Regions from separate parts of the Homo sapiens genome. Here regions 2 and 3 are each linked to region 1. The links come from fine-mapping of genetic effects on gene expression. A gene starts in region 1. Each other region holds a variant in brackets. All regions are shown on one strand. Distances are between the middles of the regions.

Region 1 (6,476 bases):
TGAAGGCCAGAAGAGGAAGGCAGATGACAGACGGAAAAGGTAGGGGACAAGGAAGTGAGCGAACCACGAGACAAGTGGGTGTCATGAACTGGGAAATCAGAAGACCAGGGTTGGATTCCAAGCTCTGCTGTAAAGTAGCTGTGTAACCTCAAGTAGCTGTGTAACCTCACCCCTTGTCCCTAACCTCTCCGGAAGTGATATCTTCCAGCTGTAAAATGAGGATAATTGTAGTACCAAGGGCCAGGGTTCCTGGGAGGATGAAAGGAAATCATAGAGGTCTAGGCAGACTTAAAGGCAGTATGGATGACACAGATCCTACAAAACTTTAGCTAGGACATGGAAGAACCTTTTGTATTTTAATGGTTGTATATTTATTTTAAGAGAAAAATATAACCAATGCATCAAACTTGTGACTTCACAGATATTATTGCTTAGGATAATTTACTATTTAAGTTTTCTTTCTTTTTTTTTGTTGCCCAGGCTGGAGTGCAATGGCCTGATCTCGGCTCACTGCAACCTCCGCCTCCAGGTTCAAGTGATTCTCCTGCCTCAACCTCCTGAGTAGCTGGAATTACAGGCACATGCCACCATGCCTGGCTAATTTTGTATTTTTAGTAGAGATGGGGTTTTACCATGTTGGTCAGGCTGGTCTCAAACTCCTGACCTCAGGTGATCCACCGGCCTCAACCTCCCAAAGAGCTAGGATTACAGGAGTGAGCCACCGTCCTGGCCTCTACTTAAGTTTTCAAAACTAGTTTGTGCACACTTAAAAGTAATTCATTTCATTGTATGTAAATTTGAACTCAAAAGAAAAAAAAGCATTAAAATATTGAACTCTACTTAATATACATGCTGAAATGTCTTGGGATGAAGTGCAATGATGTCCACAATCTGCCTTGAAATGCATCAAGAGGCCGGGCACTGCGGTTCACACCTGTAATCCCAGCACTTTGGGAGGCTGAGGCAGGTGGATCACCTGAGGTCAGGAGTTTGAGACCAGCCTGACCAACACGGTGAAACCCCATCTCTACTAAAAAAATACAAAAATTAGCTGGGCATGGTGGCGGGCACCTGCAATCCCAGCTACTCGGAAGGCTGTGGCAGGAGAATTGCTTGAACCTGGGAGGCGGAGGCTGCAGTGAGCTGAGGGCACCATTGCACTCCAGCCTGGGCGACAGAGCAAGACTCCATTAAAAAAAAAAAAAAAAAAAAAAAAGAAATGCATCAAGAAATAAGGTGATGGATGATGGATAGAAGAATGAATAGATGGATACTTAATAAAGCAAATATCGTGTAATTGCTGTAAAATTGATAGTGTAAAATATATGTTTATGTAAATATGTAAAATATACATATATAAATAAAATTGTAGAATCTAGGTGGAGGCACTGGATATTCAGTGTGCCATTCTTTCAACTTTTGTATATGTGTAAATTTTCATAATAAAATATTGGAAAAGAAAAATAGGCCAGGTGTGGTGGCTCACGCCTGTAATCCTAGCACTTTTGGAGGCCGAGGCGGGTGGATCACAAGGCCAGGAGTTCGAGACCAGCCTGGCCAACATGGTGAAACCCTGTCTCTACTAAAAATACAAAAATTAGCCAGGCTTGGTGGTGCGCGCCTGTAATCCCAGCTACTCAGGAGGCTGAGGCAGGAGAATCTCTTGAACCTGGGAGGCAGAGGTTGCAGTGAGCCAAGATCGTGCCACTGCACTCCAGCCTGGGTGACAGAGTGAGACTCCATCTCAAAAAAATAAAATAAAATAGTACTTTGATTTCAAGAAAAATATTAATAAGTAGACAATAGCACACGTGGTAGAATGAATTGGCAAAACTCATGAAGGTGATGGTGAATGATCACCCCGTTTGGCAAACAGGGACTCGAGTCTAAGTACTTTGGACAGGATCAGAAGAAGGTTCTAGGAATGTGCGGCCCCAGGGGAAAAGGCTCAGGTAAAGAAAACTGTCAGGTGGAAGCTGCTAAGCCCTGGAGGCAGAGCCTGAAGAGCAGTGGAAAAGTCTCACCTTTGAGATCAAGACAGCTCATCAATTCCTGAACCCATGGGTCCTTGTTGCCCCCACACACGCTCCAGGAAAGGAGCTGGAACCTGCGGAGGAGAGACCTGGGCTTAGCTGCGGCGCCTTCTTTCCTTCCCCGGCTCCTTCCTCATTCCAGAGGCGTGAAGTTGCCACCAAGAAAGAGCCCTTTCTCCTGGGACTGGGAAACTCCCCAGTAGGTGAGACGGAGTCATGAAGTTTCGGGGAATGAGAGCAAACGGAACCCGGAGATGGGGCTCGGTGAGCCGGGAAGGAGTTCAGGCTGGACCAGAGAGGGTCCTGGAGGCACCTGCAAGGAGGGGCCGCCCAGGCGCTGCCCTCGCAGAGGCAGGTAAAATTACCTCGTGTAGTATAGACACCGATGGTAAGCTCTCAGGTGTTTCCGGAGACGATTCATGAACTGAACCGATGGCGGGGAGTCGGAAGAAATTCTTTTACCACAATAACAACTTCCAGTGACGCTGCCCTCGTTGCCATTGCCTGCGCGGGACGGAGGTGGTCGGCACCCATTCCCAGGCCCAGGGTCCCCACTCCGCTGTTCCCTGGCATCCAATCCACAGCCCCATGACAGCCTCTCGGTGGACCCAGGGTCAGAGCGCCAGGCTCAACCCACACATCATCACGCCCCCGACAACATCCATAATCCCGCCCGGAGCCAGGCGTCCCCGGGCCTCTGTCCCCAACCCCAGGCGGCTGGCTGGCTTTCCTCTTGTCCCCGCTGCCTTCATCCACTCAACTCCGTGGGCCTCGTGTCCCCTCCCCAACTCACCCCCTTCCCGTGACAGGGGAATCTGGGTCCCCTGCCCCGCCCCCGGCTAACCTGGCTGAGTCAGGTACACCAGCAGGAGCAGAAGCAGGAGCAGGAGCACGCGGGACCCGGGCCGCAAGTCCCGTCCCATCTCGGGGCTCCGCGGACTCTGCGGGGATGGAGCCACCTCGCTCTGACTCCCAGACATGCTCCGGCGCGTGACGTCCAGCTGGTGTCTCAATGGCTTTCGCCGGGGACCGGAGGAGACGGCGGCCGGAGAGGAGGCGCGAGCCAGCTGCACCCCCCGGCCCTGCTGTGCCCCGACCGTGCGCTCAGTACTCGGCCCGCGCCATGCCAGCCTCTGGACGCAGGGAAAGCCGAGGAGGTGGAGCTCCCGCGCCCTGCGCCCCCGCACTGGGCCCGGCTCCGTCGAGGGAAGGCCAGGAATCTTGGAAGAAACCGAAAGAAAACTCCGGCGGCGGGCGAGGAGGGGCGGGAGGACGACGGCCCGAGGAGCCGATTCGGTTCGGTTCAGGAGGCCGCCCGCCTGGCCCGTCCGCCGACCTGTGAGGCGGCTGCACTGCCGGACCGGCCCTCCTCCTCCGAGGCACTTTCACTTCCCCGATCCGGGCGCCGCGGGACCCAGCCGCGCTGCATGAGCCTCCCGGGCGGCCCGGTGGAGAGAGTCGCCGCCAGCCCCGGCCGCGCGCACCTGCGGGGCAGCCACCCGCGGACGCACCGAGCCCGGGGGGCGTGGCCGCCCGCTGAGCCGGCGAGGGCTCGGGCAGCCCTGACGTCACAACCGCACCCGCGCACCCTCCACCGCGAGGTATTTACCTTCGAAAAGTGGTGGCGGCTGCAGGTACCGGAGGAGTGGGGCGGCCGGGAGGGGCTAGGTCTACCGGGGCTGCCCGCCACGCAGATCCGAGCCCAGGGAACCCCCTCGCTCCCACTCCCATACCCCACAGACGCATCCAAAATGCTTCCCTCCCCACCAAACCGTTCCCGATAGGATTAGCCCTCTCTCCTCTCTAGCCTTAATTTAAACTCTGCTTTTGAGGGTGTGAACTCTCCAATTTTAAGCCCCAAATACCATCTCATCCCTGAGTAGTCTTCTCCAACCCTGGTCACCCACTTTCAAGTCCAGCCCCCATTTTCCTCCCTAAACTCCCATCCTCAGCCCTGAAAAATCCTCTTCTCCGCTCCTAGCATATCCACGGATCCAACCCTAAGTGACTCTCAAACCTACCCTCTCCCTCAATTTGTGACCCAGCCCCAAACTCCATCATTGCTCTCCTGTCCCTCACCATATATCCCTTCTTTTGCTCAGTCTGGGCCGGGGCCCTGTGCCGCTGAAGACATGGAGTTTGTGTCTGGATACCGGGATGAGTTCCTTGATTTCACTGCCCTTCTCTTCGGCTGGTTCCGAAAGTTTGTGGCAGAGCGTGGAGCTGTAGGGACTAGCCTTGAGGGCCGCTGCCGGCAGCTGGAGGCCCAGATCAGAAGGCTACCCCAGGACCCTGCCCTTTGGGTGCTCCATGTCCTGCCCAACCATAGTGTGGGCATCAGCCTGGGGCAAGGGGCAGAACCAGGTCCTGGACCAGGCCTGGGGACTGCCTGGCTCCTGGGAGACAACCCTCCACTCCACCTGCGAGACCTGAGCCCCTACATCAGCTTTGTCAGCCTAGAGGATGGGGAGGAAGGGGAGGAGGAAGAGGAGGAAGATGAAGAAGAAGAGAAGAGAGAGGACGGGGGTGCAGGCAGCACAGAGAAGGTGGAACCAGAGGAGGACCGGGAGCTAGCCCCTACCAGCAGGGAGTCCCCCCAGGAAACAAACCCTCCAGGAGAGTCAGAGGAGGCTGCCCGGGAGGCAGGAGGTGGCAAGGATGGCTGCCGAGAGGACAGGGTGGAGAACGAAACAAGACCCCAGAAGAGGAAGGGACAGAGGAGTGGTAAGAACCCAGGGCTGGCCCTGCCCTACCCCTTGCCCAGCCATCCTCCCTTCGGAAGCCCTCCCCTGCCACTAGTTCTGAGTGCTGGCCTTCAGGCCAATCTGGCCTGAAAAGGTGTTTTTATTGACCCACAGTGGGGTTTTTTTTTTTAATTTAATGTTTAAACATTGCAAGAAAAAAAGTATCCAGAAGTCTGGATTTACACATTCCCAAGAAAAATCTCAAGCTCTGACAGTGGGCCTACATTTCTGCATGGCAGCGCATTCTGGTCCTCTGTAGCAGCTGTCCCCTTTAGAAGGAGCGTGCCCTCTCTACCCAGAGCCCTTTACTCAGTGAGGTTACTTGCCTAGCCCCGTAGGTATTTGAGTTTGGTACTCCTGACCCTGACCACATTTGTCTCTCGCTGCCCCCTACCACCTCAACTTTTCCCTCTTTCCCCAGAGGCTGCCCCCCTGCACGTTTCCTGTCTCTTACTTGTGACGGATGAGCATGGCACCATCTTGGGCATTGATCTGCTAGTGGATGGAGCCCAGGGAACCGCAAGCTGGGGCTCAGGGACCAAGGACCTGGCTCCTTGGGCCTATGCTCTCCTCTGTCACAGCATGGCCTGTCCCATGGGCTCTGGGGATCCCCGAAAGCCCCGACAGCTTACTGTGGGAGATGCCCGGCTGCATCGGTATAGAAATCTGGTATCTGAGGCTGGGGAGGACTCGGGCCCTGGATTCCCAAGCACCTCCTCCAGCCTGATGCCATCTCCCCCCCAACTGCATTTAGAGAGCTGGAGAGCTTGGTCCCAAGGCTAGGTGTGAAGTTAGCCAAAACCCCAATGCGGACATGGGGTCCCCGGCCAGGCTTCACCTTTGCTTCCCTTCGTGCTCGAACCTGCCATGTGTGTCACAGGCACAGCTTTGAAGCGAAGCTGACACCTTGGTGAGCAGCCCCAAAGCTGGGGGAGAGGAAGACCCCAATAGGCAAATAGAAGGAAGGCAGGGTGGTGGGGGGCGCCTAGCAGACAGAAGGAGAGGCAGGGACATGAGAAGATGCAGAGGAAACAATACAGACTGTTACAGGCGGTTAGAGGGTGTAAGACAAACAGACCGAGTGACATATGGGCAGCTGCTGGGCAGTTGAACAGCAGACAGGACCTACAGAGGTTAACACTAGGTGCCCACCACCCGCTGTGTCCCCAGCCCCCAGTGTAGTGCTGTCTTGTATTGTGGAGAGGCTTGTCTCCGGGCTGACTGGCAGCGGTGCCCAGATGATGTGAGTCACCGATTTTGGTGCCCAAGGCTTGCAGCCTTCATGGAGCGGGCAGGAGAACTGGCAACCCTGCCTTTTACCTACACCGCAGGTACCATAAGGAGGTCAGAATGGTTGGGGGAAACTGGGACCAGGTCTTTGAGACTGGGAATTAGATGTCTGGGAACAGGGTCCTGCAGTTGAAGGCTGAGTGTCTGGGGCTAGAGCCTAGATCCCTGGAACAAGGGCAGGGGCTGGGTGTTTGGGGCTGGAGACAGGGTCTCTGAAGCCGAGGCCTGAGTGTCTGGGTCCCTGAGAGCGTGCAGGGATTGGGGGACAGGGATTCAAACACTTACTTGCTTCCCAGCTCCACCACTAACTGCAGTGTGACCTTAAACAAACCACTTTACTTCTTGAAGCTTCCGTGTCCTCATGAGGGATACGGAGAAGGCCCATGGAATTGTTACAAGGATTATCTTG
Region 2 (5,000 bases), 44 kb before region 1:
GCACTGCAATACCGCCACAGTGGATCTGATCACCGAGATGGTTACAAGATGACCCTCAGGCAGGGAGCATGTGCAACATGGATACACTGGACAAAAGGATGATTCATGTCCGATTCACGTCCCAGGTAGGATGAAGCAGAACTCCTCGAGAGTCCATCACGCTGCTCAGAATGGCACGTAATTTAAAACTTATGAATTACTTATTTCTGGAATTTTCCACCTAATATTTTCAGACCACGGTTGACCACAGGTAAGTAAAACCATGGAAAGGGAAAGCACAGATAAGAGGGGACTATTGCATAAAAGGCCATAAATAGGAATGAAGTTTTAGCCGGGCACAATGGCACCCGCCTGTAGTCCCAGCTACTTGGGAGGCTGAGGCATAAGAATCACTTGACTAATCCTGAGAGTTTGAATCCAGCCTAGGCAACACAAGACCCAACACAGCAAAACAGAAAAGAGTAATAAAGTCTTGACACATGGATGAACCTTGAAAACTGACTGCTAAGTGAAAGAAGCCAAACCCAAAGGCTACATATTATACAATTCATTTCTATCAAATGGCCAGAATAGGCAAATCTCTAAAGAAAAAAAGTAGATTACTGTTTGCCTAAAGCTGGAGGCAGCCAGGGAGGGCTTGGTGGGCAATGGGAATGACTGTAAGTGGGTACAGAATTTCTTTATGGAGTGATGAAAATGTTCCAAAACTGAGCACAGCAATGACCGCACAACTCTGCAAATATACTAAATCCACGGAATTGTATACTCTAAGTGAGTGAACTGTGGCCGGGCGCAGTGGCTCATGCCTATAATCCCAGTACTTTGGGAGGCCAAGGTGGGCAGACCACCTGAGGTCAGGGGTTTGAGACCAGCCTGGCCAACATGGTGAAACGCCATCTCTACCAAAAATACAAAAAAAAAAAAATCAGCCAGGCGTGGTGGCAGGCGCCTGTAATCCCAGCTACTCCAAAGGCTGAGGCAGGAGAACCGCTTGAGAACGGGAGGCGGAGGTCGCAATGAGCCAAGATCGTGACACTGCACTCCAGCCTGGGTGACAGAATGAGACTCCACCTCAAAAAAAATAAAATAAAATAAAAATAAAATGGGCCGGGCGCGGTGGCTTACGCCTGTAATGCCAGCACTTTGGGGGGCCGAGGCAGGTGGATCATGAGGTCAGGAGTTCAAGACCAGCCTGGCCAACATGGTGAAACCCCGGCTCTACTAAAAATACAAAAATTAGCCAGGCGTGGTGGTGGGCGCCTGTAATCCCAGCTACTCGGGAGGCTAAGGAAGGAGAATCGCTTGAACCTGAGAGAATCGCTTGAACCCGGGAGAATCGCTTGAACCCGGGAGAATCGCTTGAACCCAGGATGCAGAAATTGCAGTTTGCCAAGATTGCACCACTGTACTCCAGCCTGGGTGACAATGTGAGACTCCATTTCGAAAAAAATAAAAGGCCAGGCACCGTGGCTCATGCCTGTAATTCCAGCACTTTGGGCAGCCGAAGCGGGTGGATCACGAGGTCAGGAGTTTGAGACCAGCCTGGCCAACATGATGAAAACCCGTCTCTACTGAAAAATACAAAAATTAGCCGGACATGGTGGCGGGCGCCCGTAATCCCAACTACTAGGGAGGCTGAGGCAGGAGAATCGCTTGAACCCGGGAGGCAGAGGTCGCAGTGAGCCGAGATCACGCCACTGCACTCCAGCCTCGGCAACAGAGTGAGACTCCGTCTGGAAAAAATAAATAAATAAAATGGCTAAATTGTATGGTTTGTGAATTATTTCTCAATAAAGCTGTTTTGGCCAGGCACGGTGGCCTATAATCCCAAAATTCTGGGAAACCAAGGCAGGCGAATCACTTGAGGCCAGGAGTTCCATACCAGCCTGGGCAACACAGAGAGACACCATCTCTACAAAAATTTTTAAAAATTAGCCAGGTGCAATGGCATGCACCTGCAGTCCCAGCTACTCGGGAGGCTGAGGCAGAAGGATCGCTTGAATCCAGGCGTTCAAGGCTGCAGTGAGCTATGAACACACTACTATACTCCAGCCTGGGCAAAAGAGTGAGACCCTCTCTCTTAAAAAAAAAAAAAAAAAAAAAAAAAATCTGGCAGGGGGCAGTGATTCACGCCTGTAATCCCAGCACTTGGGGAGGCCAAGGTGGGCAGATCATTTGAGGTTAGGAGTTTGAGAACAGCCTTGCCAACGTGGCGAAACTAAACATCTAAAAATCTACTAAAAATACAAAAATTAGCCAGACGTGGTGGTGTGGTTTCACCATATTGGTCAGGCTGGTCTCCAACTCCTGACCTCAGGTGATCCGCCCACCTTGGCCTCCGAAAGTGCTGGGATTACAGGAGTGAACCACCATGAACCCCCGCAGTAAAGCTGTTTTTATAAAAAGGCATACTGATAACCATAAAAAAAAGAGTGTTCCAGGAAAA[GAA/G]AAAAAAAAAAAACAGGCTGGGCAAGGGGCTCATGACTGTAATCCCAACACTGGGAGGCCAAGGCAGGAGGATGGCTTGAGCCCAGGAGGTCAAGATCAGCCTGTGCAACCGAGGGAGACCCCCATTCTCCACAAAGAATTTTTAAAAATTAGCCGAACATGGTGGAGGGCACCTGTGGTCACAGCTACTTGGGAGGCTAAGGTGGGAGGGCTGCTTGACCCCGGGAGGTCAAGACTGCAGTGAGCCATGATCGCCACCACTACACTCCAGCCTGAACAGCAAAGCAACATCCTGTCTCAAAAAAGAAAAATAAAAAGAGCGAAGACTATGAGATGAGAGCATACTTCGTTATTTCCAAAGAACAACAAGGAGACAAATTGTTGATGGAGAAAAGTGAGCAAGGTGGAGAGGAGTAACCAATGATGAAGGTTAAGGGAGTGGGACCAGACTGTGCAGAGACATATAGGTGATTACCGACTTTCACCCTGAGTAAGATAAAAGCCACGAGGGGGAGAGAGAAATTGCGCACAGGAGTGACAATATCTGACTTCTGGTTTGCTTTTTGTTTTGCTTTGTTTTTAATCAACAGCATTTGTGTTGTCTTGTTGAGAAGGCAGAAGCAAACAGATGAGGTAGAAGGTTACTGTAATATTCCAGACAAATGATGATGCAGCTTGAAGAATGTGGTAACTGTGGCGATACAAAGCAGTCAAAATCAGGAAGTACTGTGAAGGTAGAGCCAACGGGATGTGCCGTCAAACTGGATATGGGTGGAAAATAAAAAGAAGGGTCCAAGATAATGCCAAGGTTTTTTGCTGAACAACTAGAAAGATGAAGCTGCCATTCACCGAGAAGGGAACTAATGCAGGAGGAGCAGGTTTTGGGGTGACAATAGGGAGCTCAGTTTCAGATCTGTTCAATCTGTGATGTGTATTTAACATGAAAACGGAGATGCCAAATAGGCACCGGCTAGACAAGTGTGAAGAGAACTTCTGGCTGGAGATGTAAACTCAAGAGGTGTGGGCCTTGAGACTGGATCAGTTCACCAAGGGAATAAGAGTAAAGAGAAGAGAAACAGTGCAAGGCCTGGGTTGTAGGCACTCAAACCTTCAGAGGTCACAGAGGTGAGGAGGGATCAGTCTTTACTGGAAAGGAGTAACCAGTGTGATAACAGGAGAATCGAGAGGAGAGGAGAGGGGCTGGGAGGGTGACTAACGCCTATAATCCCAGTACTTTAGGAGGCTAAAGTGGGAAGACTGCTTGAGCTCAAGAGTTCAAGACCAGCCTCAGCAACATAGCGAGACCTTGTTTCTACTAAAAATCAAACAGATTAGCTGGGTGTGGGGGCACACACCTGTGGTCCCAGCTACCCAGAAGGCTGAGCAGGGCGGACTGCCTCAGCCTGGAAGATCAAGGATGCAGTAAGCTATGATCGCGCCACTGCACTCCAGCCTGGGCAACACAGCGAGACCCTGTCTCAATGAAACAAACAAACAAAAACAAAAAGACAGGGGAGAGATATCCCAGAAGTCAAGTGAAGACAGTTTTTTAAATAGGAAAGTATAATTAACTGTATCAAATGGTAGCGATAAGTCAAATATGATGACCCAAATTGACCTTTGAACTTAATGTCTTGATGGACACCAGTGATCTTCAAGAGTTACCATTTCACCCAGCAAAGGGTTGTTTCGGCAGCATTTAGGCTAAAAGCCTGAATGTAATGAGTTCAACGGAACAACCATCATAGTAATAATTCATTCAGGGAAGAACCTTTAATAGATGTTAAAATGAGTGGGTGAAAGGTTGACAAGACCTAAGACATTCACATTATCTCCCCCCAAGACACTTAACTACAAATGGAAAAAAAAAAAATCATACCTTTATAACAGTGAAGAAATCTGGCAGAGACCTGCTTAACCTAGAATACGTGCTCCTGATGTGATGCACCAAGAATGACACATCATTTCTGCAAGGTTTTTTTTTTTTTTTTTTGTAGAGATAGGGTCTTGCCATGTTGCCCAAGCTAGTCTTGAACTCCTGCACTCAGTGATCCTCCCACTTCGGCCTCCCACTAAGCCTCTGAATCTCATGCTGGGATAACAGGCATGAGCCACTGCACCTGGACGACTTCTGCAGTATTCTTGCTGAAAACGCACAAATCTCCAGTTTAATTTGTCTGCTGTTTCCTCATGATTAGATCCTAACCTGAGGGGCATCCTACGAAATAACTATTCTGTACTCTTTAAAAATATCAAGATCATAAGACAAAGGCTGAAGAACTATTTCAGATTAAAGAATACTAAAGAGACATTATAACTAAAAGCAAGCTGGGCGCGGTGGCTCACGCCAGCACTTCGGGAGGACAACGCGGGTGGATGATCTGAGGTCAGGAGTTCGAGACCAGCCTGGCCAACATGGCGAAACCCCATCGCTACTAAAAAAAAAAAAAGAAAAAAAATTAGCCAGGCATGGTAGCAGGCGCTTGTAATCCCAGCTACTTGGGAGGCTGAGGCAGGAGAATCGCTTAAACCCAGGGGGCGGAGGTTCCAGT
Region 3 (5,000 bases), 61 kb before region 1:
AGGAAGTGATGTTATTTGGACAAAAGTAGGAAGCTCTCTGGGACGACTCCAGGATGACACTGTTTGGGGAGACTCAGGTCCCCAGTACTTTCCTGGTTGCCTGGTATCCTGAGCAAGGGCTCTGAAGAGATGACAAATCCCACTTACAATATTCTTGCTACTGACGCTGAGGGTCCGGCAGATGAAATCCAGGATTTCCTGCACAGGGACGGACACGGGAGCTCCAAACTCAGAGCTAAAGAGAATCAGAGCAGGGAGACCTTCAGAGCAGGCTCCCTGGCATAACTCCCACACCCACCTTCATCTCCTTTCTCCTGATGAAGGCGACACTCCCTCATCAATCCCTCCTGCTCCACGCCTCCGCTCCCTCCAATACCCACACACACCTGAGCATGAGCCCTAGGCAGCGGGCCAGTCCCGAAAACCTCTGCCGAAGCTGGAGAAGGACATGGGCATCACCATCTTCTGAGGACAGCAGCATCTCCACCCCAGGGCCTTCATTCTGCACAGGAGCTGGCAGAAGCACAACTACCCTGTACACTGTCTTTCTTCCATCCCCTCCTCTGTCATTTCTGGTGGACGACCTGCCTGTATTCTAACCCATTTTCCCCAAAAACCAACTGCCCCATGTCTCTGGGCTCCCCTCCTGTTCCTTCCTGCCACGCTTCCTCACTATTGTTCCACTAACTAGCAGCCCTGGTCCCTACCAGTCTCTGCTCCCTCGTACAGGGCCCCCAGCAGGGTGTGCAGTGAGGCCAGCAGACTGTGTAGCTCCTGCTCCCAGCTCTCGGTGTGCTTCAGGCCTTGGGAAAAGCCAGCCCCTAAAGAGGGCAGCCGGGAATAACACTCACAGGCCAACTGCGGGAGAAAGGACAGAAACCTGGTCAGATGGGAATCCAGCCCAGCCACAGAACCCCCAGCCCCACTGACACCCAAAAGAGATGGAGATCAGAGAGAGCTCTGAGGGAAACCTGAGATGGGACAATGAGGCCGAAGGACACAGATGGGCATATGAAGGCAGGACAGAAAAGCTAGAGGAGGAGCAGCAAGAGACAATCCAGGCTCAGATCCCCGGGCTCTCCCTCTCCCTCCCTGCCCTTTACCTGTTGGAGCTGAGGGCTCAAGGCATCCACCCTAGACAGAAAAAATGAGGCCAGCTTGCCCTGGATGTGGAGGAAAAAAGGAAGAGGCCAGTGAGCCAGCTCTGAGAGCCAGAGATGTACATCCCATCCGTTCCCAGCAGCAGACTCTAAGCCCAGGTCTCTTTTTCCTGTAGACACAAGAAGCAAAGCCCTCTATGGGGCATCAACACCGGGCACGGACATGCTTTCATGGTAAAAGACTCCTCAACGCCAGCTCTGGTCCTCGGCTTCCTGCTTGGGAGCGAAAAGGGCCTGGCCCTGTCCCAGAGACAGCTGGGCTTCCTCCTTGACAGTTTTTGCAAAATTTTTCCCTCAAGCCAAAAGGACATAGTACTAAAAAACAGTCTCCACACTCCAACTCTCTACCAGCTCACACACAAAAACGAGGGTCCAAGCTGGAAGTTAAGACACTAACCAGAGGTATGAGGGCAGGACAAGGTCAAAAAAGAAGGCTGCTAGAGCAGAAGTAAGGCAGCAAGTCTCGGAGTAGCAATCTGTCATTCGGCACTTTCTCTGCCTGCTGTGTGAAGGTGCTAGGGCAGGAGTGTTTAACCTGAGAACCACAATTTAGTTGGATATACAATCATAGGGGGCCTGTGATCATGGATGGGGAAAAAAATTACTCCCACTAGCCTATTTGTAAAATGTAGTGTTTCCTTCACTTATAAATGCAGACAAATAGCCACAGTAGTATCAGCAGTACCTGTGACTGTCACTAATAGAATCATTTTCATGTCACATTATA[A/C]TTGTAACACATCCTGAAATATCATTCACATGCATCACTAATTTGCAATTATAGTCGTTGTAAGACCTGCTTCTAGATCTTATTACTTAACATGTCAATAAAAAAGCACAGGCTGGGTGCAGTAGCTCACGCCTGTAATCCAGGCACTTTGGGAGGTCAAGGCAGGCGGATCACTTGAGCCAAGGAGTTTGAGACCAGTCTGGGCAACATGGAGAAACCCTATCTCTACTAAAAATACAAAAACTTAGCCGGGTGTGGTGGCGCATGCCTGTAGTCCCAGCTACTTGGGAGGCTGAGGTGGGAGGACCACCCAAGCCCAGAACCGAGATCATGCCAGTCAGTGTACTCTAGCCTGGGTGATGAGAGTGAGACCCTGTCTCAAAAAGAAAAAAAAAAAGGCCAGGCACGGTGGCTCATACCTGTAATCCCAGCACTTTGGGAGGCTGAGGTGAGCAGATCACGAGGTCAGGAGTTCAAGACCAGCCTGGCCAACATGGTGAAACCCCATCTCTACTAAAAGTACAAAAATTAGCTGGGCACAGTGGTGGGCACCTGTAATCCCAGCTACTTGGGAGGCTGAGGCAGGAGAATTGCTTGAACCCAGGAGGCGGAGGTTGCAGTGAGCCGAGATCACGCCACTGCACTCTAGCCTGGGTGACAGAGCAAGACTCTGTCTCAGAAAAAAAAAAGAATTAGTAAGGATAACAAGACAAGCATATGGAAAAACAAGAATCTGGAGCCAACACTGGCAACATACAGAGAAGGGGAAAGAGCAGGCTCACGCTTTCCCCGAGACATCCTAGTGGTGCACACCTGTAGTCCTAGCTACTTGGGAGACTGACGTGGGAGGATCACTTGAGCCCAGGAGTTCAAGGTTACAGTGAGCTACAATCTTAACACTGCACTCCTGGGTCACAGAGCGAGACCCTATCTCCAAAAACGGCTCAAAAAGCTGGACTGAAGCCAACAGAAGTCTGCTTATGTGACTGCAATAAAGCAGTGTACGGTGAAGCGACACGGCTCTAACCACAGGTTACCCTGGCTGACCCACAAAGCAAACCAAAGCAATGACTCGCTTGGAACAGTTCACTCAAAACGCGCACACACACAGCATGTCCTGGGGCTCTCTCAAGAGTAGGTCAGTCTTCCCACCCATTCCGAGGAACTGCTCATCAATGTGGCAAGGACGAGGAAGTGAGTTCAAGTCTCTGCAGGAATTGACCTCATGGACTCAGAATGCTTGATTCACATTACTTGGGAGTAGTAATCCTGAGCTTGGAGTCTACAATTACCCTGAGAGTATCCGGGGAATGTAACAGAAAACACAGACACTTCAAAACGGCAGTTATCAGTTTTCCTAAGTACTAGTCTGCGAGATTTTCCAAGTGCAAATTGCCCCTGGAGCCTCTGCATGACAGATTCTTATCTGAAGTGCTGGCAACCGACAAAGCCAAAACCCTCAACACCCTCAACAGAGGGAAGTTCTCCAGATGACCTTTTTTTTTTTTGAGACAGGGTCTCACTCTGTTACCCAGGCTAGAGTGCAGTGCCACGATCTCAGCTCACTGCACCCTCTGCCTCCCAGCTTCAGGGGATCTCCTGCCTCAATGTTCTAAGTAGCTGGAACCACAGGCACACACCACCACACCCAGCTAATTTTTTTGTATTTTTGGTAGAGGTAGGGTTTCACCATGTTGGCCAGGCTGATCTCAAACTCCTGGCAGATGGCACTTGATTCTTAGGGAAATAAAGGTAAGACACTCCCTGGAAGGACACAGGAACATTTGTTAGTTTGGAAAGGGTACTCAAAATGCAGGCCTTAAGTTCAACTGTCTGACAAAAGGTTGAGAATTACAGATAAATTCTCCTGACTACTCACACTGAAAATAAAAAAGCAACAGCAGAAGAACACTTAGCATTCTAGTCTCCTTAACTCTTACTATTCACACTTCTATCCTGTTAAGTAACACTCAATTTCCCCTCCACTTTCATGGGGGATGCAGGTAGATAAAGATAATACCTAACAGAGCTGAATCAAAATACACTTTTGCAGTAAAACCAAACCTTTGTTCAGGGACAAACTGCTGGCCTGTGTCATTTGAGAGGTTAACTTACAGAACATTTGACAAGATAACCAGTTTTTACTAAACTTAGTAAAACCTCAGTAAATAACCTCTGCTAATCTTTAATAAAATCGATGAGTCACTCCAAATACCTTCTTGACAAAATGTCCTGCCCTGCCTACCCAAAGATTCTATTAGCTGTGATTAGAGGCATTCACATGAAAAGAAGGAACCAGCAAGGACACAACCCCTCGCTCACTCAGAACTAGCATCTGCTCAGGCACTTTTCAGATACTGCGAGTAACCAGTTACTAACGACACTGCAGGCATCACTCCCTGATCACAGCGCTCAGGCCGATGGAACTCTGACTCACAGTCCTTCCCAGGCCAGCGAGCTACACAGCCACTAACAATTGACTAGAGCTGCTACCTGCCCTGGTTTTACAATTACCAGATAATATAACCTTTGGTTACGTCACTTAAGTCCCTCTCAGCTGGTTTTCTCCTCTGTAAAATGCAGTGATACAAATTCCACAGAATAATTACAATGATAAAATGACACAACACATCTTAGACACTCAGGAGAGTGAATGGCACAGTGGGCACCCACTAAAGACCAGTTCCCTTTCCCTCCAAGAACTTACTTTCTTGCTTTGGTCACAGAACCACATTAATCTCATTTTCTTTCTTTTTTTGGAGACAGAGTCTCACTCTGTCACCCAGGCTGGAGTACAGTGGTGCGATCTCGGCTCATGGCAACCTCCGCCTCCTGGGTCCAAGCAATTCTCCTGCCTCGGCCTCCCAAGTAACTGGGACTACAGGCACACACCGCCACGCCTGGCTAATTTTTTGTATTTTAGTAGAGGCGAGGTTTCACTGTGTTGCCCAGGCTGGTCTCAAACTCCTGAGCTCATGCAATCTGCCCGCCTTGGCCTCTCAAAGTGCTGGGATTACAGGCATGAGCCACCACGCCCAGCCTCATAATCTCACTTTCAAGACAACCTGAATAGCAAACTCCCCCTTAACTAACAATACTAATGGCAAATACAG

What was found. PIP is the estimated chance that this variant, and not a neighbour inherited with it, causes the effect. A credible set is the group of variants that fine-mapping cannot tell apart.
Region 2: its variant is the best candidate, but not a certain one, in a credible set for the expression of ZMYND15 in whole blood (INTERVAL, PIP 0.64).
Region 3: its variant is the best candidate, but not a certain one, in a credible set for the expression of ZMYND15 in whole blood (INTERVAL, PIP 0.78).

Annotation. Positions count from the first base shown.
Region 1 is chr17:4,736,384-4,742,859 of GRCh38, forward strand. ZMYND15 (zinc finger MYND-type containing 15) reads left to right here and starts at 3,450. Exons shown (of 14, transcript NM_001136046.3): 1 at 3,450-3,667; 2 at 4,136-4,757; 3 at 5,199-5,433; 4 at 5,532-5,687; 5 at 5,948-6,108. The coding sequence starts at 4,166. CXCL16 (C-X-C motif chemokine ligand 16) reads right to left here and starts at 3,545. Exons shown (of 6, transcript NM_001386809.1): 1 at 2,878-3,545; 2 at 2,399-2,537; 3 at 2,025-2,107. The coding sequence starts at 2,956. RefSeq lists enhancers at 2,058-2,963, 2,964-3,868 and a silencer at 3,417-3,636.
Region 2 is chr17:4,693,586-4,698,585 of GRCh38, forward strand. The region is part of intron 1 of PELP1 (proline, glutamate and leucine rich protein 1); the gene reads right to left. Among named protein-coding and RNA genes, the nearest start is that of PELP1, 8.1 kb to the right of the region's middle. RefSeq lists enhancers at 1,628-1,797, 2,991-3,060, 3,690-3,859, 4,768-4,937. The variant GAA/G (reference allele first, on the strand shown) is at 2,447.
Region 3 is chr17:4,675,650-4,680,649 of GRCh38, forward strand. It overlaps PELP1 (proline, glutamate and leucine rich protein 1), which reads right to left. Exons shown (of 17, transcript NM_014389.3): 6 at 1,104-1,163; 7 at 708-858; 8 at 387-513; 9 at 148-235. Among named protein-coding and RNA genes, the nearest start is that of PELP1, 26 kb to the right of the region's middle. The variant A/C (reference allele first, on the strand shown) is at 1,888.